Homo sapiens: one gene and its partners. The protein of the gene in region 1 purifies or fractionates together with the protein of each later gene. This does not show direct contact. Each region holds a gene or a part of one and is shown in the gene's direction. Other genes may lie near its edges.

What was found.
Region 2: the proteins of CDH8 (region 1) and CTNND1 purify together in Homo sapiens (co-immunoprecipitation; 3 studies listed by BioGRID and IntAct, with this or other methods). This does not show direct contact.
Region 3: the proteins of CDH8 (region 1) and BCAM purify together in Homo sapiens (co-immunoprecipitation; 3 studies listed by BioGRID and IntAct, with this or other methods). This does not show direct contact.

What each region holds. Positions count from the first base shown.
Region 1 is NC_000016.10:62,034,794-62,038,544, reverse strand, and holds the start of CDH8 (cadherin-8 isoform 1 preproprotein), read left to right. Parts: upstream 1-2,106; 5' UTR 2,107-2,465; intron 2,466-3,358; exon of another isoform or gene 3,359-3,462; intron 3,463-3,751. UniProt on the Homo sapiens protein: Cadherins are calcium-dependent cell adhesion proteins. They preferentially interact with themselves in a homophilic manner in connecting cells; cadherins may thus contribute to the sorting of heterogeneous cell types.
Region 2 is NC_000011.10:57,764,748-57,768,498, forward strand, and holds part of CTNND1 (catenin delta-1), read left to right. Parts: intron 1-3,751. UniProt on the Homo sapiens protein: Key regulator of cell-cell adhesion that associates with and regulates the cell adhesion properties of both C-, E- and N-cadherins, being critical for their surface stability.
Region 3 is NC_000019.10:44,819,024-44,821,993, forward strand, and holds the end of BCAM (basal cell adhesion molecule isoform 1 precursor), read left to right. Parts: intron 1-32; coding exon 33-169; intron 170-322; coding exon 323-467; intron 468-558; coding exon 559-703; coding exon of another isoform or gene 704-707; exon of another isoform or gene 708-1,681; coding exon 1,682-1,799; intron 1,800-1,892; coding exon 1,893-1,898; 3' UTR 1,899-2,398; downstream 2,399-2,970. UniProt on the Homo sapiens protein: Transmembrane glycoprotein that functions as both a receptor and an adhesion molecule playing a crucial role in cell adhesion, motility, migration and invasion.

The sequences.
Region 1 (3,751 bases):
TAGGGCTTTCTAACATTATCCTAATCCTCTATCACACTGCTTAATCATCCAAACCTCTCTTAAGAATTAGTCAGGAAATTCCTATTGTAACGCTTTGAGCAGATATTAGCAGGTATAGACAGGTTACCCTGAATTCCAGAGGACCAAAATTCAGGGAAGACAATGTATATAACTGCTGTAAGAGTAAATATGGACAAGATGAGTCAAAGCAAACTCTTCTTAACCCTAGATACCCAAAGCCATTGGATTCTGGCTCTCTTTAAAAGCCATTGGATTCTGACTATCTTTACTATGTCAGCATAGTTTGTTAAGAAAATGAGATTTGAGGATATTGTCTAACAATCTGGCTTTTTTTTTTTTTTTTGAGACAAGTTTGTTACTTGTGACAATCCCCAGCTTTCAGTAGCACATGAGTTTTTTTGAGTTTTCATAGATGTAAGAAGTTACCCCAAGGAACGGTTCAAATTATTTGTTCAAGTGAAAATGAATATCTGAAATTAAGCACAACCCAAAATGTGATCTATTTCTTTGTCCACTTGGGACTGTCTGGTCTAGCAGCAGTTATAATTTGATTGAGCCTTGACTGCTGCTCCTTTTTCCAAGACAGAATTAGCCAATTCCAATACCCTGTAAGCAGACACAGTCTGAGAAGAGAACAAACAGTTACTTAGTGACTGCCTGGGGGAAAAAAAATACCACTTGGTTCTCTTCACCTCTCCCTCTCTGAAATAATCCACTAAGTTTCTTGCCTATGACAGCTAGAACATGAAACAATCAGATATTAGAGCTACAGCCAATACTCTTTTTCACATTTCACAATGGGTTGTCAGATGCAGCACACAAAAAAATGTCAAATTTGCATAAATATCATAAGCATGTTGTGCCTATTTTCTCATTCTGTTCACTCTTTCTCATTAATTTGAGTGAGACAGTACAAGCTCTACAGACTGTGCGTCTTGTCCCCTGCACCTTTTTCCCCCTTCTGTTCTTGCTCTGTCCCCAGATGGTAAAATCCACCCTCAGGCTCACGTCTAGTGCACACAGGGAAGGGACTAAATCGGGATCTCCTGTGGAGGGGAGGGTTTTTTTTTTTAAGGTAAGAATTTATTTGTCTTATATTTATCTAATTTTATTAGAAGATGATGACTGTGGCATCGTCTACATGTTAGCCCCAGTGTTGAAAAAGAAAAGAAATCTGGACCTCCTGATTCATGGTCCCTTTTACCCCAGGGTGGCCATTTCTCAAGATCTGAGCGCAGCCCATCAGAAGACTTGAAGTGACCACAGACAGGGCAGGTCTTGGTGGAGGCAGGAGAACCGCAAGGATGGTATCTGAGAGGATATGACAAGATCAGGGCACATTGAGAAGACCTAGAAATTCCTCCCCTATTTCCCAAGCAAGTTCTGCTTTGCCTGCCCTCCTCCCCACAACCAACTACTGCGCGCCCCTCCTGGCTGCCACTCTGCTGTCCCTCATCCCATTTTCCCAAAGGAGCACGGGGACATCAGGAATGCGCTCCATCACAGAACCGCGACACACAGCCTCTACATAGCGTCTGAGTTGCAGGCAGGGGTCTCACAATCACCCTATTCTGTACGCAAGAGGCCCTTGGAATAAAGAGGAGGTAAGCTGCCCACGCTCAACCCTTTGCCCTGTCGCGTCCTCTTCCTCCTACGGAAAATAGCTGCGGGTCACTGAGACGCTTTTCAACATAACGCCAGCCCCAGAGCTCAGGTGAGACCTCTAGAGAGAAAGCTCGCAGGTACCTCATCCGCATGCTGTTATTATCTGCCAGCCCACTTATCCAGGAGCTCGGTCCTCAGCGGGCTGCGCGCACCGCGCGGAAGGGCGCATCTTCACCTCGTGGCTCTGGCGGCAGAGACGCGCGGGGCTTGCTCGGGAGCGAGGAGCGAAAAGTTGTGCGCCCACTTGGGTAGGGGGAAAGAGAGCGATCGAGCCAGCGCGGGAGAGCGAAGGGGGAAGGCGGGGAGGGGGCGGGGAGGGGGGACTGCTTACATGAATTTCCAAGTGGTAGACCTGCCTCTGCGCTCTGCCCAATGAGATCCGTCAGGGGAGGCACCCGGCTCACTTTTCCACATCACTTCACAGTTACATTTGGCAGGCAGGCGGGCTCGCACGCCGGAGCGCTCAGCCCAGAATTAGTGGATTTATTTGGAATCTCCCTGCCTCCTCCAAGCTCCGCCGCCGCCGCCGGCTTGTGCATAGACGGTAGCGTCAAGACACCAGCTGCACTTTGGGTTGCGGACACCCAGAGCCCAGCGCGCCCGCCCTGCGTCTCCGCACCAAGCCCTGTAGCTCCGAGAGGCATGAACGGAATCCGGAGGCGCCTGCCTAGCGAGCGAGGACCGGTCGGCGCTTGCCGCCCTCGGGAGCTAACCCCGAGCACCTCCAGCCATTTGTGAACCTGGAGGCTTGACATTCGCCAGCGCAGGGCCCCACAAGAGTAAGTGTTCCCCTAACCCACCCCCGTTTTCCTCTATGTTCCGACTATCCAGAAGGGACCGTTTCTTATAGGAATTCCCATGCCCCTTCGGACACCTTGCGCGCCTCCTGCCCCTCAGATGGTGGATGAGGGTTCTTAGCATAGGCTCTGGGCTAAGCTGTGTCTTTCGCGATATCCGTGGGTGATAACGTACGTACGCCTCAAGGTTTTGCCTGACTGTTTTTGCAAACTGCTTTGACAACAGATCCTAGAGAGTAGCAAGCTCCAGGCTGTGCCCCTCCAGTTTTCCTGCCGGTTTCCTTCCCTGCGGCGACTTGGCTATTTCGCCGCTTCCCAACGCAGGCAGGCGCGGCTGCAGCCGCGCGCCTTCACTGCGGGGTCCGTGCGGTGAATGGGAAGCACCTGCAGCCCGCTGTGCGGAGGGTGCAAGCCAGGGAAAAAAGGAGGCGAGGGGGCCCGAGTGGTCTATGGCTGGTTTTCTGCACCGCCTCATCTCCGAGGCGAGGGAGGGCGACCCCCGCGGCAGGGCTGCGGGCCAAGGCTCAGCTGCGAAAGCCCCAGCGCGAGGCTTTCCCACAAGTGGCAGCTCCAGCTCTGGGAGGTGCGGTGCCCGCTACAAACTTGCCGGGCTCCGGAGTCGCCCTGCGGCTCTGCCCTCGCCAAGACGCTGCCCAGCACCCCTGCAGGACCCCCAGGCAGTGTCTCCCCGCAACTCGAGATTGCGTGCACGGAGGCCCCCTTAAGCCGGGGACTCCGTAGCCGCTCTCCTAGGGACAGCTGAGCCCAGACCTGCGCTTTCTGTGGTCTGGCCGCTTCTCATCCGGGAACCTTTGAGGGGCTGGTCGCGCCCCTCGCAGGATCGGAGGGAAAAAGGCTCTTGCCTAGGTTCTGCCAGTACGTAAGAGGTTCATAAGGGACCTACTCCGGTTCTCCCAGGATCCAGCCAAGGCTGGGAAACGGTAAAAAAACGTGCTGCCGCCAACGCTGATGCCAACAGGTATCCACAATTTCCTCCGCTTATTCCTCCCAAACACCAGAGCCTTCCCCCACCCAGTCTGGCAGAATCCTCAAAGTTTCCTTGCGGTTGACCCTTCCCCCGCAGGCACGGAGCCGGCGGCATGTCAAGGACTAGCCGTTTGCCTCCACCAGCGGAGATGGCAGCTGTTTGCTTGGGTTGCTAAATGTAAGAAATCAAACCACATTAATTGTTTATTGTTGCAAACGCACAATATTAGTCCGTAATGGAAAATCGGGCTGGCAGCTGCTCACTTCAGCACCAATTAAAC
Region 2 (3,751 bases), on another chromosome or scaffold:
TAACTACAAAGTCCATGGACTTAACCACTAATATACTGCCATTCTCCAGAGAGAATGGAAACAACAGCTCGAACTAAAACGAGCCCTTGCTAGAGGCAGGAGTGTTTCATCTTGGCACAGGGGCAGTACTCACTTAAATTTCCAACTCCCTCCAACTCCCCACTACCCTTGTTGGGATAATGTATGCAAAAGATCTATTTTCCATAGAGCCCATGGGGAGCTGGATGTGCTAGAATGGATATTATTTTAATCTTTAGAACGAGAATCTTTCCATATCCATATGCCCACCATTGCTGTCCTAATTTCTTAAACTTCCTGGAATTGTGTCACACGTTGTTTATCAGTAAAATTTCTTCTTCCAGAGAATTTGTTAGGTATGTGGTTTGGAATGATAGGATATCATCAACTTGCAGGGACAGGCTTGTAGGAGGTAGTTCAGATATTCTTGTCTTTCCCTCTAGACTATGAGCAGCTTGGGTGTAGGTACTGTCTTATCTCTGTATCTTTTTAGCACCTGTCTTAGTGTTTGGTACATACTGAGGTGCTCAGTAAGCCTTGGTTAAATAAGGCATTTGATGAGAATCAGTGAGGGACTGATTTGTGGGGAAGGCTTGAAAGGAAGCAAAACAACATAGATTAATCAAATTGCAATGTACTTTTGCAACTTTTACTGTAGTCTGTAGTTTTAACCTTTTATGCGTCTCCTCCCTTAATTTTTTTTTTTTTTTTTTTTTTTGAGACAGGGTCTTGCTCTTGTCATCCAGGCTGGAGTGCAGTGGTGAAATCATGGCTCACTGCAGCCTCAAACTCCTGGGCTCAAGTGGTGCTCCCACCTCAGTCTTCTGAGTAGCTAGGACTATGGGTGCACACCACTATGCTTGGCTAATTTTTGTGTATTTTTGTGGAGATGGGGTCTCTCTATGTAGTCCAGGCTGGTCTCAAACACCTGGGCTCAAGCCATCCTCCTACCTCGGCCTCCTAAAGTGCTGGGATTATAGGTGTGCCCCACCACACCTGGCCCTCCCTTATATTTTTAAGCAAAGTTTCTAGAGATAATGGAGGATTTAAAATTTTAGCTTTTCTTTAATCCTGTTCCTTTCTTGGCAAGTGGTACAAAGAATAGTATAAAAAGTAAGGATCTGGCCTGGTGCGGTGGCTCACGCCTGTGATCCCGGCAGTTTGGGAGGTCCAGGTGGGTGGATCGCTGGGCAACATGGTGAAGACTCCTCTTTACAAAAAATACAAAAATTAGCTGGGCGTGGTGGCATGTACCCGTAGTCCTAGCTACTGGTTGCAGCAAGCCGAGATCATGCCACTGCCCTCCAGACTGGGCTTGCAGAGCCAGATCCTATCTCAAAAAATAATAATAATAAATAAATAAATAATAAGTATCCTAGTCCGTTCATTTCATAATGAACTTCAACACTGAAAACCTTAAATGTTGCCATTTTCTAGGGGAGAGTATATTAAGACATCAGCAGAAAAGTACTGCTTTCAGCCCTGGTTGGAGGTGAATGGTTTCTGTGCTTGTTAATAAAAACGTTAAGAGCTTGGGATGATAGTTTTGAACATCAGTGTTTCAAAGAAAGTATGTTTGGATATCAGTGTATTTTTTAAATCACTGTTTTAGCCACAAAACTTTAGATTTTGTTCATGTATTGGGAAGCTTATGAGTTTAAGAACCGAAATTAGTTTTCTTGGGTAATTTAAAAGGTATTAACAAGGAACTTGCCTACAGGAGTGAACTGTAGGTAATAAGGATGTGAATAAGTACAAATATTCTTTCATGTTCTCTTCCCTCAAAGAAGGGTTAAATGACACACAAAGCTGAAGTAGGGATTGCTCTGCCTAAATTATGCAGCTGCCTCCAAGGTTTCCAATAGAGCATTGATGTAGCCTGGCAGGGAGATTGTAAGAAGGCAAGAACAACTGTTCTGGTTAGAACTAATGAGGGGGAAATTAGGGTATGGATTGATTTGTATTTAATTGTTTAATGTATTTTTCGGAAGTAATTTTTTTCCCTAATTCTACTTGGAATTGCATGTTATTATTAAATATTAAGCATTGAGAATGGGGCCTGAATTTACCACTTTATTCAGGGATCGTGTTCCCTGTTTTTAGGGCCACTTCTTCTCCAGTGAGCCCTTCAGTTTGATTGGTGTGGTGTGGACAATTTAGATCAGGCATATAGTGGGGGAATTATAAAGAGGCAAAGAATTTTCTTATCTTTTTTTTTTTTTTTGAGATGGAGTCTTGCTCTGTTGTCCAGGCTGGAGTGCAGTGGCACGATCTCAGCTCACTGCAACCTCCGCCTCCCGGTTTCAAGCGATTCTCCTGCCTCAGCCTCCCAAGTAGCTGGGACTACAGGTGCGCGCCACCACGCCCTGCTAATTTTTTGTATATTTAGTAGGGATGGGTTTTACCATTTTTGCCAGGTTGGTCTCAAACTCCTGACTTCATGATCCGCCTGCCTTGGCCTCCCAGATTACAGTCTTGAGCCACTGCGCCCGGCCAGAATTTTATCTTAAAGCCTTCCTTGCTGGTCAGCAGTAGGTAATTTGGTCATGACTTTCACAAAACATGTCCCAGGTTGGTTGATGTGATGTGATGACAAAAGCACTTCTCAACTTTTTATTTCAAACTTGCAGGAAAGTTGCTCTAGCACAGTAACTGGTATACTCTTCATTTGCCTAGGTATCATTTGTTAACATGTTGCCACAAATGCTTTATTCTATATTTTTTGGTAAATATGCTAACCAAAAAGGGAATTTCCAATCTGAGACTTCCATAATATGGTGAGGCAAGGCAGCATAACATAATGATTAAGAGTATGGATGGGGAGCTAGACTGCCACGGAGGAAACATGTAACCTAGGGCAAATTGCTTAATCTCTCTCTGCCTTGGCCTCCTTGTCTGTAAAATGGGGATAATATTAACCATCTTATAGATTGTTGTGACACTTAAGTTATTTAATGTATGTGAACTTTATAGAGTAATGCAGAGCTCCTAGTAATGTCTTGTGTTTGCTATTAGAATGGATGCTTCAAAGAACTCAAATTTCGTTTGTTGAACTAATGCCCTTGAAGGTCTTTTTTTTTTTTTTTGAGACGGAGTCTTGCTCTGTCTCCCAGGCTAGAGTGTAGTAGTGCAATCTTTGCTTGCTGCAACCTCTGCCTCCCGGGTTCAAGCAATTCTCCTGCCTCAGCCTCCCGAGTAGCTGGGACTACAGGTGCCCGCCACCACGCCCGGCTGATTTTTGTATTTTTAGTAGAGGAGGGGGTTTCACCATATTGGCCAGGCTGGTCTCGAACTCCTGACCTCAAATGATCCACCCACCTCGGCCTTCCAAAGTGCTGGGATTACAGGCGTGAGCCACCATGCCCGTCCGAAGGTCTCTTAAAACCTGAGAATCTGTGGTAGATGTAGGTGCTTGCATTACAGAATATATGGGCTTCCTGAGTGGGTAAAGCTAACTTTTAAATTTTTTTAATGGGAAAAAATTAGTAATAGGTAATATTGGAGAGTTGTGTGGGTGAGGTTCAAAACAACGGTAGTATGAGAATGGATAACTTTAGTAAAGTGAAGTGTCAGTGGGAGGAAGATAAACAGAATGATTTGTATGATTTGTGGACATCATCCTTTTTTTTTTTTTTTTTTTTTTTTTTAGACAGAGTCTTGCTCTGTCGCCCAGGCTGGAGTGCAGTGGCGCGATCTCGGCTCACTGCAAGCTCTGCCTCCCGGGTTCACGCCA
Region 3 (2,970 bases), on another chromosome or scaffold:
CTTCACTTTCTTCCCATCCCCACCACCCACAGGCTCGCCAGAGCTAAAGACAGCGGAAATAGAGCCCAAGGCAGATGGCAGCTGGAGGGAAGGAGACGAAGTCACACTCATCTGCTCTGCCCGCGGCCATCCAGACCCCAAACTCAGCTGGAGCCAATTGGGGGGCAGCGTAAGGGACCTTCCTCTCCACCCTGAGCCCCCTCTCACTCATCCAAGTATCACACCCTCCTTTCCACTTCCTGGGAGACTGGACGTCGTTCACCTCTGCCCTTGACCCCACCCCTTGACCCCACCAGCCGGGGCCTGATCGGAGCCTCCATAGCCCGCAGAGCCAATCCCCGGACGGCAGGGTTGGGTGAGCAGCTCTCTGACCCTGAAAGTGACCAGCGCCCTGAGCCGCGATGGCATCTCCTGTGAAGCCTCCAACCCCCACGGGAACAAGCGCCATGTCTTCCACTTCGGCACCGGTGAGTGACTGAGGTGGTGGCAGAGGAGCCGGGTGTGGGGCAGACAGAGCCCACTGCCTGACCCACGCCTCTCTCCATCCTGTCCCTGCAGTGAGCCCCCAGACCTCCCAGGCTGGAGTGGCCGTCATGGCCGTGGCCGTCAGCGTGGGCCTCCTGCTCCTCGTCGTTGCTGTCTTCTACTGCGTGAGACGCAAAGGGGGCCCCTGCTGCCGCCAGCGGCGGGAGAAGGGGGCTCCGTGAGTGGCCTGCTATCTGCAATGACCACCATAGCTTAACCCCATCCCCACCCTCAACCCCAAGCTCAACCCATAACCTCAACCACATCTTATCCTCCACCCCACATCCCACCACATCCACCTCCATCCCCAACCCATCCTCATCCCCAACTACAGCCCCAAACCCAGCCCCAGACTAATCCACAGCCATCCCCAACTCATCCTCATCCCCAACTGCAGCCCCAAACCCAACCCAGGGCCATCCCCAAACCCATCCCCAAGCCAAACTCAACACCATCCCCTTCCCTAATCACCTCTCCTGCCCCTAGCTCAGCCTCATCCCCAACTCCATGCCTGTCTCCAATCCCAACCCTGCCCCCAATCTCCCCTCAACTCCAATCCATAACCCCCTTCAAACCATCCTCAACTAAGCTCCTCTCCAGCCCTGGCCACATCCCCATCCTCCCCCAACCTCCAGCCCCAACACCCATCATCCCCCTGAGCTCACCCTTAACTCCAATTTATCCTCCAAGCCTATCTCTCACCATCCAGCCCTCACCTAGCCATTTCCCAACCCTAGTCCTCCACCGTCCCGAAGCCAACTTCACCCATGTCCCCATCCCCAATCTTGTCCCCATTCCTGACTCCAAATCCAACCCCTAAGCCTCCCCAAGCTCCTCCTCATCTAACCTTGTCTCCAGCCCCAACCACATGGCCGTCCTCACCTCCAATCCGTAACCATCCCAGACCGATCCCAAAGCCAACTCCAGCTACATTCCCACCTCCAACCCCAATAGCATCTGCATCCCCATGCCCAACCCTAACCCCAGTGCCATTACCAGCCCCTACCCCATCCCTATGCCATCCCCACCCAGCACACCCCCATCCTCACCTCCATCCCCAGCCGCATCCTAGTCCCACCCACCCCCATCCTCAGTTCCTCCCCCTGCCGTGTGCACCTCCAACACGACGCCTCCGCCCGCTGCCTCCTCCCCCCAGGCCGCCAGGGGAGCCAGGGCTGAGCCACTCGGGGTCGGAGCAACCAGAGCAGACCGGCCTTCTCATGGGAGGTGCCTCCGGAGGAGCCAGGGGTGGCAGCGGGGGCTTCGGAGACGAGGTGGGTGAGGGCCTGGGCCCCCTGGTGAGAGGGACCTGCTGGGCAGTGGAGCACGCCCGTGGGCACAGGCTGACCTCTCCATCCGCTCCCCAGTGCTGAGCCAAGAACCTCCTAGAGGCTGTCCCTGGACCTGGAGCTGCAGGCATCAGAGAACCAGCCCTGCTCACGCCATGCCCGCCCCCGCCTTCCCTCTTCCCTCTTCCCTCTCCCTGCCCAGCCCTCCCTTCCTTCCTCTGCCGGCAAGGCAGGGACCCACAGTGGCTGCCTGCCTCCGGGAGGGAAGGAGAGGGAGGGTGGGTGGGTGGGAGGGGGCCTTCCTCCAGGGAATGTGACTCTCCCAGGCCCCAGAATAGCTCCTGGACCCAAGCCCAAGGCCCAGCCTGGGACAAGGCTCCGAGGGTCGGCTGGCCGGAGCTATTTTTACCTCCCGCCTCCCCTGCTGGTCCCCCCACCTGACGTCTTGCTGCAGAGTCTGACACTGGATTCCCCCCCCTCACCCCGCCCCTGGTCCCACTCCTGCCCCCGCCCTACCTCCGCCCCACCCCATCATCTGTGGACACTGGAGTCTGGAATAAATGCTGTTTGTCACATCAACACCATCCTGTGGCCAGAGCTTCCTCTGGGAGTAGGGAGGGGAAGGGCGATGCAGGTGATTCCCTGCTCTCAGCTGCCCCCCCATCCGCCCCCTTGCAAGACCTCAGAAGACGCCTGATGTCATGGAGAAAGAAATGAGACAGGGCTGGGCGCCGTGGTTCATTCTTGTAATCCCAGTGGTGGTGGCTCACGCCCGTAATCCCAGCACTTTAAGAGGCTGACACTGGAGGGTGGCTTCAGGCCAGGAGTTCAAGACCAGCCTGGGCAACATATGGAGACCCCATCGCTACAAATAATAATACTAATAATACAGAAATTAGCCAGGTGTGCCTATAGTCCCAGCTATTCAGGAGGCTAAGGTGGGAGGATTCCTTGAGCCCAGGAATACGAGGTTACAGTGAGCTATGATCACGCCATTGCACTCCAGCCTGGGTGACAAAGCGAGACTTCATCTCTAAAAAAAAAGAAGAAAACAAAAAGAGGCCAAGCTCAGTGGCTCAAACCTGTAATCCCAGCACTTTGGGAGACCAAGGCAGGGGGATCACTTTAGGTCAGGAGTTTGAGACCAGCCTGGCCA